2 separate regions of the Homo sapiens genome follow, and region 2 is linked to region 1. A link means that fine-mapping ties the variant in region 1 to the expression of a gene that starts in the linked region. Tissue or cell type: whole blood. Region 1 holds a variant in brackets; the other region holds the start of a gene. All regions are shown on one strand. Distances are from middle to middle.

What was found. PIP is the estimated chance that this variant, and not a neighbour inherited with it, causes the effect.
Region 2: SPNS2 starts here. The variant in region 1 is fine-mapped to the expression of SPNS2 in whole blood (TOPMed, PIP above 0.99).

Annotation. Positions count from the first base shown.
Region 1 is chr17:4,423,963-4,431,535 of GRCh38, reverse strand. No RefSeq gene overlaps it. Among named protein-coding and RNA genes, the nearest start is that of SPNS3, 6.2 kb to the left of the region's middle. The variant G/C (reference allele first, on the strand shown) is at 4,654.
Region 2 is chr17:4,495,979-4,502,119 of GRCh38, reverse strand. It overlaps SPNS2 (SPNS lysolipid transporter 2, sphingosine-1-phosphate), which reads right to left and starts at 3,239. Exons shown (of 13, transcript NM_001124758.3): 1 at 2,703-3,239. The coding sequence starts at 3,072. SPNS2-AS1 (SPNS2 antisense RNA 1) reads left to right here and starts at 3,385. Exons shown (of 3, transcript XR_001752763.2): 1 at 3,385-3,969; 2 at 4,405-4,578. RefSeq lists enhancers at 1,805-2,439, 2,440-3,075 and silencers at 3,117-3,166, 3,227-3,376, 3,387-3,446.

The DNA of each region.
Region 1 (7,573 bases):
GGGCAACAGAGTGAGATCCCATCTCTAAAGAAAAAAAACATCAGGGGGACAAAAATGGGCCAAGGAGTTGAACAGACATTTCTCTGAAGATATACAGGTGACCGACAAGCACATAAAAAGATGTTCAGGCTGGGCACAGTAGCTCACGCCTGCAATCCCAGCACTTTAGGAGGCTCAGGTGGGTGGATCACAAGGTTGGGAGTTCGAGACCAGCCTGGCCAACATAGTGAAACTCCATATCTACTAAAAATACAAAAATTAGCTGGGCGTGGTGGCATGTGTCTGTAATCCCAGCTATTTAGGAGGCTGAGGCAGGAGAACTGCTTGAACCCGGGTGGCAGAGGTTGCGGTGAGCTGAGATCACACCACTGCACTCTAGCCTGGGTGACAGAGCGAGACTTCATCTCGGGGGAAAAAAAAAAAAAGAAAGAAAAATGTTCAACATCACAAGTCATTAGGAAAATGGCAGATTGAAGCCACCATAAGATATCAGTTCGTACCCACTAAGACGGCTATAATTTTAAAAAGAGAGAGAGAGGAAATAACAAATGTTGGTGGAGAGATTGAAAGCCTCATGCATTGCTGGGAATGTGGAGTAAGGCAGCCGCAGTGGAACAAAGTTTGGCAGTTCCTCCAAAGGTTAAACATAAAATTACCATATGGCCCTGCAATTCCAATCCTAGGTATATATCCAAAAGAACTGAAAACAGGCCAGGTACAGTGGCTCACACCTGTAATCCCAGCACTTTGGGAGGCCGAGGCAGGTGGATCACGATGTCAGGAGTTCAAGACCAGCCTGGCGAAGACAGTGAAACCCTGTCTCTACTAAAACTACAAAAAAATTATCCAGGCACGGTGGCAGGCGCCTGTAATCCCAGCTACTCGGGAGGCTGAGGCAGGAGAATCACTTGAACCCAGGTGGCAGAGATTGCAGTGAGCCTACATTGCACCACTGCACTCCAGCCCGGGTGACAGAGTAAGACTCTGTCTCAAAAAAAAAAAAAAAAAAAAAAAGAATTGAAAACAAAGACTATTTTGAGCCTCTAATCTCAGCACTTTGGGAGGCCAAGGCAGACGGATCGCTTGAGGTCAAGAGTTCAAGGCTGGGCGCGGTGGCTCACACCTGTAATCCCAGCACTTTGGGAGGCTGAGGCAGGTAGATCACAAGGTCAGGAGATCGAGACCATCCTGGCTAACACGGTGAAACCCTACCTCTATTAAAAATACAAAAAGTTAGCTGCGCATGGTGGCGGGCGCCTGTAGTCCCAGCTGCTCAGGAGGCTGAGGCATGAGAATGGCATGAACCCAGGAGGCGGAGCTTACAGTGAGCCAAGATCACGCCACTGCACTCCAGCCTGGGCGACAGGGTGAGATTCCATCTCAAAAAAAAAAAAAAAAGAGTTTGAAATCAACCTGACCAACATGGTGAAACCCCGTCTTTACTAAAAAATCCAAAAAATTTAGCTGGGCATAGTGGCACACACCTGTAGTCCCAGCTACTCGGGAGGCTGAGGCATGACAATTGTTTGAACCCTGGAGGGAGAGGTTGCAATGAGCCAAGATGGGACCACTGTACTCTAGCTGGGGCAACAGAGCAACTTTGTCACTCTGTCTCAAAAAAAGAAAAAAAAAAAAGAAAAGAAAAGAAAACAAAGACTCAAACAAATACTTGTACATAAATGTTCATGGCAGCACTGTTCATAACAGCCAAAAGGTGGAAACAGCTTAAACGCCCATCTGATAAATGGGTCAAGAAAATGTGGCATAATCATACAATGGAATAGTATCCAGTCATAAAGAGGAAGGAAGTACTGATTCATGCTACAACACGGATAGACCTTAAAAACATTATGCTGGCTGGTCACAGTGGCTCACGCCTGTAATCCCAGCACTTTGGGAGCCCGAGGCAGACAGATCACCTGAGGTCAAGAGTTTGAGACCAGGCTGATCAACAAGGTGAGACTCCATCTCTACTAAAAATACAAAAATAATCCGGGTGTGGTGGCACCGCACTTGTAATCCCAGCTACTCAGAAGGCTGAGGCAGGACAATGGCTTGAACCTAGGAGGTGGAGGTTGCAGTGAGCCGAGATTGTGCCACTGCACTCCAGCCTGGGCGACAGAGTGAGACTCCGTCTCGGAAAAAAAAAAAAAGAAAACATTATGCTAAGTGAAAGACACCAGACACAAAAGGCCACATATTGTATGATTCCATTTATAGAAAATATCCTGCACAGGTATAGTCACAGAAACAGAAAGTAAATGGTTCCTAGAGGCTAAGAGGAGAGGAAAATGCTTAATGGGAAGACAGTCCCCTTGGAGAGTGATGAAAATGTTTCAAAACTAGATAGAGGAGATGGTGTCACAACACTCTGAATCCACTCAATGCCACTGAATTATATCCTTTAAAATGGTTACAATTTTAAGTAATGTAATTACCTCAATTTTTAAAAAACATTAAAGAAGCCGGGCTTGATGGCTCGTGCCTATAGTTTCAGCTACTTGAGAGGCTGAAGTAAGAGGATTGCTTGAGCCCAGGAGTTTGAGAACAACCTGGGCAACACAGCAAGATCCTATTTCTTTAAAAAAAAGTTAAAGCAAACAAACAAAAAAGTAGGAGCTTTACAGTCTGACCGGCCTGGATTCAAAATCAAATTTTGCTACTTTCTAGTTGTGTGCCTCAGGCAAGTCTCTAACCTCTCTGAGCCTCCGAGTTCTCATTTGTTTTCTTGTTTAGAGACAGAGTCGCCCCAGGCTGGAGAGCAACTGTGCAATCTCAGCTCACTGCAACCTCCGCCTCCTGGGTTCAAGCCATTCTCCTGCCTCAGCCTCCCGAATAGCTCGGACTACTGGCACACACTGCCATGCCCAGATAATTTTTTGTATTTTTAGTAGAGACAGGCTTTCGCCTTGCTGACCAGGCTGGTCTAGAATTCTTGACTTCAGGTGATCCGCCTGCCTTGGCCTCCCAAAGCGCTGAGATTACAGGCATGAGCCACCATGCGTGGATAATTTTTTGTATTTTTAGTAGAGACAGGATTTCGTCATGCTGACTGGGCTGGTCTCGAATTCCTGAGTTCAGGTGTTCTGCCTGCCTCGCCCTCCCAAAGTGCCGGGATTACAGGCGTGAGCCACCACGCCTGGATAATTTTTTGTATTTTTAGTAGAGACAGGCTTTCGCCATACTGACTAGGCTGGTCTCGAACTCCTGACTTCAGGTGATCTGCCTGCTTCGGCCTCCCAAAGTGCTGGGATTAAGGCACGAGCCACTGCGCCCAACCAGTGTTCTCATTTGTGATAGAGAATAATAAGATGGGTTGGGCGTTGTGGCTCATGCCTGTAATCCCAGCACTTTGGGAGGCCAAGGCAGGCAGATCACCTGAGGTCAGGAGTTTGAAACCAGTCTGGCCAACATGGTGAAACCCCGTCTCTACTAAAAATATAAAAACTTAGCCGGGCGTGGTGGTGCATGCCTGTAATCCCAGCTACTCGGGAGGCTGAGGCAGGAGAATCACTTGAACCCAGGAGGTAGAGGTTGCAGTGAGCCGAGATTGCGCCATGGTACTCCAGCCTCGGCAACAAGAGCAAGACTCAGTAAGTCTTAAAAAGAGAATAATATGACGATGTTTCAGGGGTTAATTGTGAGGATGAACTAATATAGATACACATACTGTTTCCAACATAGAGCTTGTCATGTGACAAACAGAGTGTAGAGTATTGTTATTGTGGTGGTGACGATGATGACGAGGTCCTTGGCATCCACTGCCTGGTTCAGCCGCATACCGTCTCGGTGACCACCCACATGGGGTCTACAGTTGGTGAATGAAGGGGAAGTTCAAGATCATCCATGCGCACGTGCAGGCGGTCTCGCATCCTGCTTCAGAACCTGTACTCCGCAGCTAGACTCACTGCTCACTGGCCATAGGATCTCAGGCAGATCACTCAACCTCTCTCCATCTCAATTTTCTCACCTACAAAATGGGGATGGCCAGGCACAGTGGCTCGTGAATGTCATCCCATTACTTTGGGAGGCCAGGACAGGCAGATCGCTTGAGTTCAGAGTTGGAGATCAGCCTGGGCAACACGGCGAAACCCCGTCTCTACTAAAAATGTAAAAATTAAGGCCGGGCGCGGTGGCTCACGCCTGTAATCCCAGCACTTTGGGAGGCTGAGGCGGGTGGATCACCTGAGGTCAGAAGTTCGAGACCAGCCTGACCAACATGGTGAAACCCCGTCTCTACTAAAAAAAAAAATTTTTAATACAAATACAGATACAAAAATTAGCCAAGGATGGTGGTGCATGCCTGTAATCCCAGGATCACCTGAGCCCAGGAGATCAAGACTGCAGTGAGCCGTGATCGCACCACTGCACTCCCACCTGGGCGACAGAGTAAGACTCTTGTCTTGAAAATAAATAAATATAAAACAAATAAAATGGGGATAAAAATAGTACACACCTCATGGGACTGTTGTGGCTTGAATACGATGATGTTTGAAAAGTGCCTAGAACTATGCTTGGTATGGAGGAAGTATTGTGAGTGTTAAATATAATGGGGTTTTCCCCAGCACATGTAGATGAAACTTTGTTCTCAGCCCCTGCCCTCAGAGCCAAAGAGTAGTGGGCAGAGCTACATCCACAAGTGTGAGTGCATGA[G/C]GAGAAGGTGGGCACACGAGCACCCACACCCCCACTCACACACACTCATGCAAACCACACAGCAGTGGGGACCTTGGCAGCCCCCACCTAGCAGCTGCTGCCCCAAACAGGACCTTTCCAGGGTCCAGCCCTCACCTTTACCCAACAAGAAAGAGACGCTGTGGTGGTTTTCAGAGCCAGTCAGGGACTAGGGAGGGGTTCTTGAGGCCAGAACTCCCAGGAGTTGGGCAAGTCAGGGAGGCTAGGTGTTAGCCAGGAGAGCAGCATTAGAATATATCCAACTGGCCAGGTGCGGTGGCTCACACCTCTAAAACCAGCTACTGGGGAGGCTGAGGTGGGAGGATGGCTTGAGGCCAGGAGTTCGACGCTGCAGTGAGCTACGATCGTGCCATTGCACTCCAGACCGGGCGACAGAGCAAAACCCTGTCTCCAAAAAAAAAAAAAAAAAAAGAAGACATCATGCTGAGTGAAATTACCCAGATGCAAAAGATAAATATTGATTGTATGATTCTACTTATATGAGATTTATAGAATAAGTGAATTTTTTAATTAATTATTAATTTTAATTTTATTTTATTTATTTGTTTCTTTTTGAGACGGAGTCTCACTCTGTCACCCAGGCTGGAGTGTAGTGGAACGATCTCAGCTCACTGCAACCTCCACCTCCTGGGTTCAAGCGATTCTCCTGCCTCAGCCTCCCGAGTAGCTGGGATTACAGGCACGTGCCCCCCACGCCCAGCTAATTTTTGCATTTTTAGTAGAGATGGGATTTTGCCATGTTGGCCAGGCTGGTCTCGAACTTCTGACCTCAGGTGATCTTCCTGCCTTGGCCTCCCAAAGTGCTGGGATTACAAGCCTGAGCCACCGCGCCCGGCCATTTATTTATTTTATTCATTCATTTATTTATTTATTTATGAATGACAAGGTCTGGCTCTGTCACCCAGGCTGGAGTACAGTGGCACAATCTCAGCTCATTGCAATTTCCTTCTCCCAGGTTCAATCCATCCTCCCACCTCTGCCTCCCGAGTAGCTGGGACTACAGGCACACGCCACCATGCTGGCTAATTTTTTGCATTTTTTGTAGAGACAGGGTTTTGCCACGTTGCCAAGGCTGGTCTCAAACTCGTGAGCTCAAGCAATCTGCCCACCTCAGGCCTTTCAAGGTACTGGGATTACAGATGAGAGCCACGGCGCCTGGACTAGAATATGTGAATTTACAGAGACCAAAAGTAGAATAGAGGTTAGGAGGGACTGAATGGGGGCGAGTGAGAAATGGGGTCATTGCTTAATGGGCACAGAGTTTCAGTTGGGGATGATGAAAAAGTTTCACAGATGGAGGGTGGTAATGGTTGCACAACGTGAGTGCATTTAGTACCTCTGAGCTTTACACTTAAAAATGGTTAAATTGAGGCCAGGCGCAGGGGCTCGCACCTGTAATCCCAGCACTTTGGGAGGCTGAGGCAGGCGGATCACCCGAGGTCAGGAGTTCAAGACTGGCCTGACCAAAATGGTGAAGCCCCGTGTCTACTAAAAATACAAAAATTAGCCGGGCGCGGTGGCTCACGCCTGTAATCCCAGCACTTTGGGAGGCTGAGGTGGGCGGATTACGAGGTCAGGAGATCGAGACCATCCTGGCTGACATGGTGAAACCCCGTCTCTACTAAAAATACAAAAACAAAATTAGCCAGGCATGGTGGCAGGCGCCTGTAGTCCCAGCCACTCGGGAGGCTGAGGCAGGAGAATGGCGTGAACCCGGGAGGCACAGCTTGCAGTAAGCTGAGATTATGTCACTGCACTCCAGCCTGGGTGACAGAGCAAGACTCTGTCAAAAAAAATACAAAATACAAAAATTAGTTGGGCGTGGTGGCACATGCCTGTAGTCCCAGCTACTTGGGAAGCTGAGGCAGGAGAATCGCTTGAACTCGGCAGGCAGAGATTGCAGTGAGCCGAGATCGCGTCACTGCACCCCAGTCAGGGCGACAGAGCAAGACTCTGTTTCAAAAAAAAAAAAAAGGCTAAATTGTAAATTCTATATTATTTTACCACAATTAAAAAAAAAGTAAATGGGGTTATTGTAATATCAGAACAGTGACAACATTCTAGATTCCCAGCTTCAGAGGCTGGTTAAATAAATTATGGTACCTCCAGGCCAGGCGCCGTGGCTCATGCCTGTAATCCCAGCACCTTGGGAGGCCGAAGCAAGCGGATCACCTGAAGTCAGGAGTTCGAGACCATCCTGGCCAACATAGAGAAACCCCGTCTCTACTAAAAATACAAAATTAGCCGGGCGTGGTGGCACATGCCTGTAATCCCAGTTATTTGGGAGGTTGAGGCAGGAGAATCGCTTGAACCCTGGAGGCGGAGGTTGCAGTGAGCTGAGATCCTGCCATTGCACTCCAGCCTGGGCAACAAGAGCGAAACTCCATCTCAAAAAAAAAAAAATTAAATTAATAAATAAATCATGGTACCTCCCTACAATGGGGCACCAGACAGCCCTGTACATGATGTTAGTCTATGTTGATCTGAAAGACGTTCAGAATTTGATGGTGAAAAATAAACAAGAGCCTACAAAATCCATGTCCAGGATAATTCCATTCAGATAAAAATAATAAAACACATCAAAGACAAACTTGTGAACTGGCCAGTCATAGCTTATTTGGCTGCTTTTTCTCGTGAATTCTGATACAGAAGCTTATTGGGGGCCAGGCGTGGTGGCTCACACCTGTAATCCCAGCACTTTGGGAGGCCAGGGCGGGCAGATCACCTGAGGTCAGGAGATAGAGACCAGCCTGGCCAACATGGTGAAACCCCGTCTCTACTAAAAATACAAAAAAATTAGCCGGGCATGGTGGTGGTGCCTGTAATCCCAGCTACTTGGGTGACTGAGGCAGGAGAATCCCTTGAACCCAGTAGGCAGAGG
Region 2 (6,141 bases), 71 kb before region 1:
ACAGGCGTGAGCCACCGCGCCCAGCCCTAACAACTTTTATATTGATTACATGTTGAAATATGTTGGATATATTGAGTTAAATAAAATATATTATGAATTAATCACACCTATTTCTTGTACTATTTTAGTCCGGCTACCAGAAAATTTGACAGGAATATGTGGCTTACATTATATTTCTTTTGGACAAAGCTGGTCTACACTATGAAAAAACAGATTTAAAGGACAGAGTTAAAGAAGGAGAGTGGGACCTCCCTTCCATCTTTGGTGGGGAGCTGGGGCCAGGTAGGTGCAAGCATCAAAGACTGAGCAATTGAGTCTCTGCATCCCCATCTCTGTCCCAGCTGGGCCAGCCAGCAACAGGTGCACTCAGGCCTGGGATGAGCACTCCCCTGGCCCTAGCACATCAAGCCATAGTAGTTACCATAGAGATAATAAATATTCCTAAAAACTGAACTTGGGGAAGTGGAGATGGGGAAATCTACCATAGAGAGAGGGGCAACCAGGCTTATCCGGAGAGGAAACCTGTGTCTGTTGTGTGTTGGGGGTGGGGTGGTGTGTGAGCTCCCACTCCAGGCCAGGAGAGGGAGGGAGGCACAGCCCAGGCAAGTGTTTGCACAGGACTTTCCGGGCCTTCCTCCCTAACTGCCCCACGCCCCTCTTAGCCACCACTCCCCACCTCCCTTTACCAATTCACCACAAATTTCCTATCTCATTCCCCCATGCTGACAATCTGACTCAGAGACCTGAGTAGAAGTGGGAGCAGATAAGTGCCAGCCCTCCCTGATCCCACCCTCTCTGGCTCTGCCCCTGGCAGAGGCAGTTCCCCTAAGAACGTCAAAGGGGGTGGTCTGGGGCCAGAAAAAAAACAAGTTGGAGAGCGCTACAGTGCCAGAAGTAGTACCATTCCTTCTTCAGCTGAGAAAGGGTGGGAAGACCTCCTCCCAGGCAGAGCCTTACTGTTAGAGCTAACACCAGCTTTGCCAGTCACTTTCCTGGCCATCTTGAACGGGGGCTGTACAGGGACATTGGTCCCCCTATCTGTGTACAGAAGCCTTTTGTGAACTGACTACAGGTCCCAGGTATTCTCTGATTTCTCCCCCAAAGGATGGCGCTTATGCTCCCAGGTCCCCGGCAGCATGGTGCATGCGTGACAGCGGCTGGCGTTTTTGGGAGGTGCTCAATATTCCTGCTCTCTAGACCAAAGTAAGTTTCTCTTTGGGATAGCTCGACCCAGAAACTGATGCCACTGGTACCCACTTCCAATTTCCTCCAGCGGAAGGACAGAGAGCCAAGGGGGGTTGAAAGCAGGAATGGGGGGAGGGGGAAGCCTCTGCCCTCCCATCAGAATTCTTCCCTTCCATTTGACACAAAACTCCATTCAACAGACGGGGAGACTGAGGCCCAGAGAAGGCACCAGGTGGCATGTGGTTTATGCCCGGGCTCTCTTCCCTCAATTGCCGCAAAGTTCTCTTTAGAGTCTGTCCAAAAATAAATCCTTCCCTCTCTCCTATCTCCTCTCTCTCTCTGTTGTGTGTGTGTTTGATAGCTCCAGATTTTACTAAGCTATAGTTACGCAGGTTCTGGGCCAGCATGCCAGGCACACAGTACTGCTCTCCTCCTGCAGGGAGCCCCTTCCTATGCCAGTCTGGCCAAAGTCCTTCCCTCTCAAAGCTCCACCATTCCCAACCAGTAGCAGCTCAGTCTAGGGCAAATTCTTACCCCTAGACCCACCCCTAATTGCTGGGGAAGGGAGCCAGCAGAAGGCAATTCCAGAACCACGTGCGTCCCCCAAAGGCCCAATGATCAATCAACTCACAAACGGGCAAACAGACCTAAACACACGCTGAGACTGGCCCAAGGTCACACACCAAGCACATTAGGAGCAAAGCTGGGGCTAGAACCCAGTTGTTCTATCGATCCCAATCCCGTCCCCAAGGCTGATTCCCAGAGATGCTCCCTGAGGATGAGGCTCCACGTCTCTAGCTCCAGAGGCCTGCGCCCTACCCTACACCCCAAGCACCATAGAGCAGGGGGAGGCGTCTCCAGGCCTCTGTACAGGGCCAGCTGCAAACCGCAGCCTGGGTCCCCAGGCGCCGCGGACCCGCCCCGCCCCTCCCTCCGCTCCCCGCAGCCCGGAGCCTTTGTCAGCCACGCGCTCACACACAACCGCGCCGCCACGCGCACACACACCCGGTCTCCCTAGCGCACACCCGCAAGGGGCGCGCGCACTCGCCGCACGCACGCAGGGGGGTGGAGGCGGCGGAGAAAGGAAGGAACTGACGGGCCATGGACGGACAGACGACCTGGGCTGGGGGAAGGGAAGGGAAGGAGGCCCGGGAACCGGCAGCTGGGGTCGGAGGGGGCGCAGAGACAAGGAGACAGAGAGACGCAGAGGAGACTCTTGGAGAGGAGGACAACGGATGGGCCGTCAAGGGCTGGAGAGGACGCGCGGGCTGCTCCAGGGGTGGGGACTCCTCTATCCCTTGGCCCCGGGTGTGTATGAGCGGGGAGCTGGATTGTACCCGTGGTGCACGGAGGCATCCCTTGCCCAGTTGTGCCTGAGCAGAGGGTCCGTAGGGACCTCACGTAGGGCCTGGAGATAGCAGGCCTGAGACCAAAAGCTCTCTGGGGTACCTCCCTCGAGGCGGGTGGTGGGATGGGGTGGGGTCTTGGTCCTCGGGCTGGGTGGGGCACTCGCTCACCTGCCACGGTGTACCTGTCCAGGTAGTTGAGCACGTTGCCCAAGCTGAGGATGGCGGCGGCTGCCCCCCGCCCGCGGCCCAAGCTGGCCGGTTTGGGCTGCTGAGCGCCGGGGCCCTTTGCAGTAGCTGCGCAGCCGGGGGTGCCGGGGGTGCCGGGGGGTCCGGTCGGGGCCCGCCTTACGCTGCCCGACAGCGTCTGCACCTCATCGCCCGCGGCCGAGACTCCAGCGCCGCCCGCGCCCCGCGCCCCGCAGCAACCGCTACCGCCAGCCCCTCGCTGCGCCCCCCGGCGCCGGCGCCGCCGCTCCGCGTCCGCCTCCTCCTCCTCCGCGCCGCCCGCCGCCGCCGAGGCGCATTCCAGGCACATCATGCCGGCCCGGATCGGGGCGGCGGGGGGCGCGGGGGGCGCGGGGCCCAGGCTGGGCCCGCTCAGCGCGTGCGTGCGCCGCGGAGCCGCCACTGCACCATCCTGGTCGGGCCCCGTCGGCTCCTGCGCTCCGGCCCCGGCTGCGGCGCTGCCACCGCTCAGCTCGCTGCGCCTCGTTCGCCGCCGCGGCTCTGACAGCTGCGGCCCGGCCCCGCCCACCAGGCCCGCGCCCAATCAGCTCCGGGCTCGGGCCACAGCCCCGCCCCGCACGTGCTGCCCTGGGGGTGGGGGGCCCGGGGACTGGGGGCCCGGGCGGCAGAGCCCCTCCTGCCAATGGGGGCGCAGTCACGCCGGGGCCGACCGGCCGCGAACGCCCGCGGGGAGCGGGAGAGGGTTTGCTCTGGCTACGGAGCTGGGAGCAGGGTGCTGGTGACGGGGCTCCCAGCACCTACTCAGTACCCTTCACCCAACCCCTGCCTCGGGCGTGGACTCCCGGCGGAGGCTCTGGGAGCCGGGCTGAGGGCTTGAGCCTAGCGTATCTGGGAGAACTGGAGAGAGGAGTCTCAGATGGCTAAAGTCAGGGGCGCCAGTTGGAGAGCCGGTGGCTCCTCCGATACTCACACGCCCGGATTTAACCAGTTCAGGGAGGGCCCAGAACCTAGACCTCCACCAGTCATGGTGGGCTGTGTCTCCCACCTCCCCAGGGCAACCCAGATCCAGCCCCCAACCTACCCCGGGCCCATTCCTGTGTGGGCACCCGGACCCTACCCTTGCCCCACAGAGTGGCCCGCAGCCCCTGGCGGGGAGAGCAAGGGCTGTGATTGGGGCCCAACAGAAACAGGATATTCAGAAGGGGCTTTCCCTCCTGAGGGACCACATCTCCAAGCTTCAGACTTCCAGGTATGTGCTAGAGAGGGTACAAAGCCCCCAGTGGCAGACAGGAGGCTGGGTCCTAGCTCAGCTCTGCCCTGGTGTGTGGCATGATCCTGAACATGACACCCACTCTCTGGGCCTCCATTTCTGTATCTGGGGGCAGATGGCAGGATGGGATTCAGTCTGGAAATCCACGGGTGGTCACCTCCCCTTGGTGGGACGGGGCGGGGGTCTGCCTCCTATGGAGAGTGGTTGGGGTGCTTCTGTGTTCCTGACATCCCATCACGGTTTCACCCCTCCTTAGAGGTGCTGTGGCTCTGTGACGATCTCCCCCTTCCCTCCCCCATTCACCTGTTTGGGGAATTAAAATCGAAATTAAAATCCTGTATAAAGTGCAGAGGACAGAATGTTAGAACTGGACAAACCCTCGGAAACCAGTTAATCATTCCCTGTGTTTCACAGACAAGTCCCAGGGCACGGACGTGACCCATTACGAACAGGCAGTGAAGCTGTGGCAGGGCTGGAGCTGCCCCAGGCTCTGGCATCATCCCCGAGGGCTGGAGCTCACTCCCCGCTAGAGGCTTTTCCGGACCCCACGTCCACAGGCAGGTGCATCTGGTGAAGCTTTCGGCCACAGTGAGTCATGGCATAGCCAACGGGTGACACAGCACGAGGCACCCCCCCCGCCCCCCTCCACTGTCTCTTGTGAGCAGAGTTAATCCCCAAGCTGGTGTTTCTTGGCGCCTTCGAGGTGTATTTTAAATTCTGCAAAGTGACTAAAAATATGCTTCAGCGTGCTGGGTATGAATGACTGTGACGGGAGGGTTAGGAAAACAGATTTCATTCTCAAAGTTGCCTGCTGCCTCTTTCCAGCTCGCTGAGCTCAGGCCTGCAAAGGCGGATGGGGGGAGTTCCCCATGGTGGCCTGGCATGACGGGTGATTAACAAACAAGGACAGAGAGCTAGGAGCTCCGTGGGGCTAGAACCCGGCCCCAGCAATGATCTCGTAAGTGTGTGATGGTGCCAGCAGGTGGACAGAGTCCAGCTGTGGGAGGCTGCCCAGCTGTGGAACTGTGTCTAGTGGTGAAGGAGGCACAACCACAACTCTAGACCCAAGCCCAGGGTCCCCTTCCCGTGCCCCAAAACTCCTCATCCCTTTGGCCACAGTCCTGTCCAGGTGGACACTTTCGGCCTTGACAGAAAGGGGAGCATTCTCTTTCTGCTGCCTTCCCTTTTCACCACTGGGAAGGTCCCAGAGCAGGGGAAGAGGGTGGCATGAGCCTTTCAAACCTGGGGGACCTCTGAGCTGCCACCAAGCAAGCCAGCCCTTCCCACTGTGTTTCACTGGGGTTTCAACTCAAAGGCAGCCTCTAGAATAAGTCCTTGTGTGGGATAAGGGGCCACCAAGGGCAGAGGGACAGGGAGGACAAGAAGCCCTTTCTGGTTGTGCAGCCCAGGACAAATCCCTACAGCCTTCTGAGAAGCTCTGGCAGTAACCTGGGGCTGTCAGACAGAGGACTGGTAGGGTTCTTTCCTCCATCTCGCCAATGAAGAAACTGAGGCCCAGGGAAAAGAAGTAATTTGCCCAAGGTCGAACACCTGGTAAATGACAGTGCATGGACTAAACCCAGGTGTGTTTACCCTCTAATCCAGCACTTCCTCCACTGCACGCTGCCCTCAGACTGGGCGGGATTCTGTTTCTTCATCAGTATAACAGGAGGCTGAACTCCGTGGCTAAAGGACCTTCTGATATTCATTCATTAGGTCTAGATCACAGCTTCAAAACAAATGGGGGCCGGCGTGGTGGCTCATACCTGTAATGCCAGCACTTTGGGAGGCCGAGGTGGGTGGATCACCTGAGGTCAGGAGTTCGAGACCAGCCTGGCCAACATGGTGAAACCCGGTCTCTACTAAAAATACAAAAATTAGCCAGGCGTGGTGGGGCGCGCCTGTAATCCCAGCTACTTAGGAGGCTGAGGCAGGAGAATTGCTTGAACTTGGGAGGCAGAGGTTGCAGTGAGCCAAGATCATGCCACTGCACTCCAGCCTCGGTGACAGAGTGAGACTCCATCTCAAAAACAAAAACAAAAACAAAAAACAAAAGTGGGGGGAAAAAAAGAAAAGAACACACACAAAAAAGAAAAAAATGGGGCACAGAACATTAATGGCCATTATTCAAAGAGCAGTCATACTTGGGAA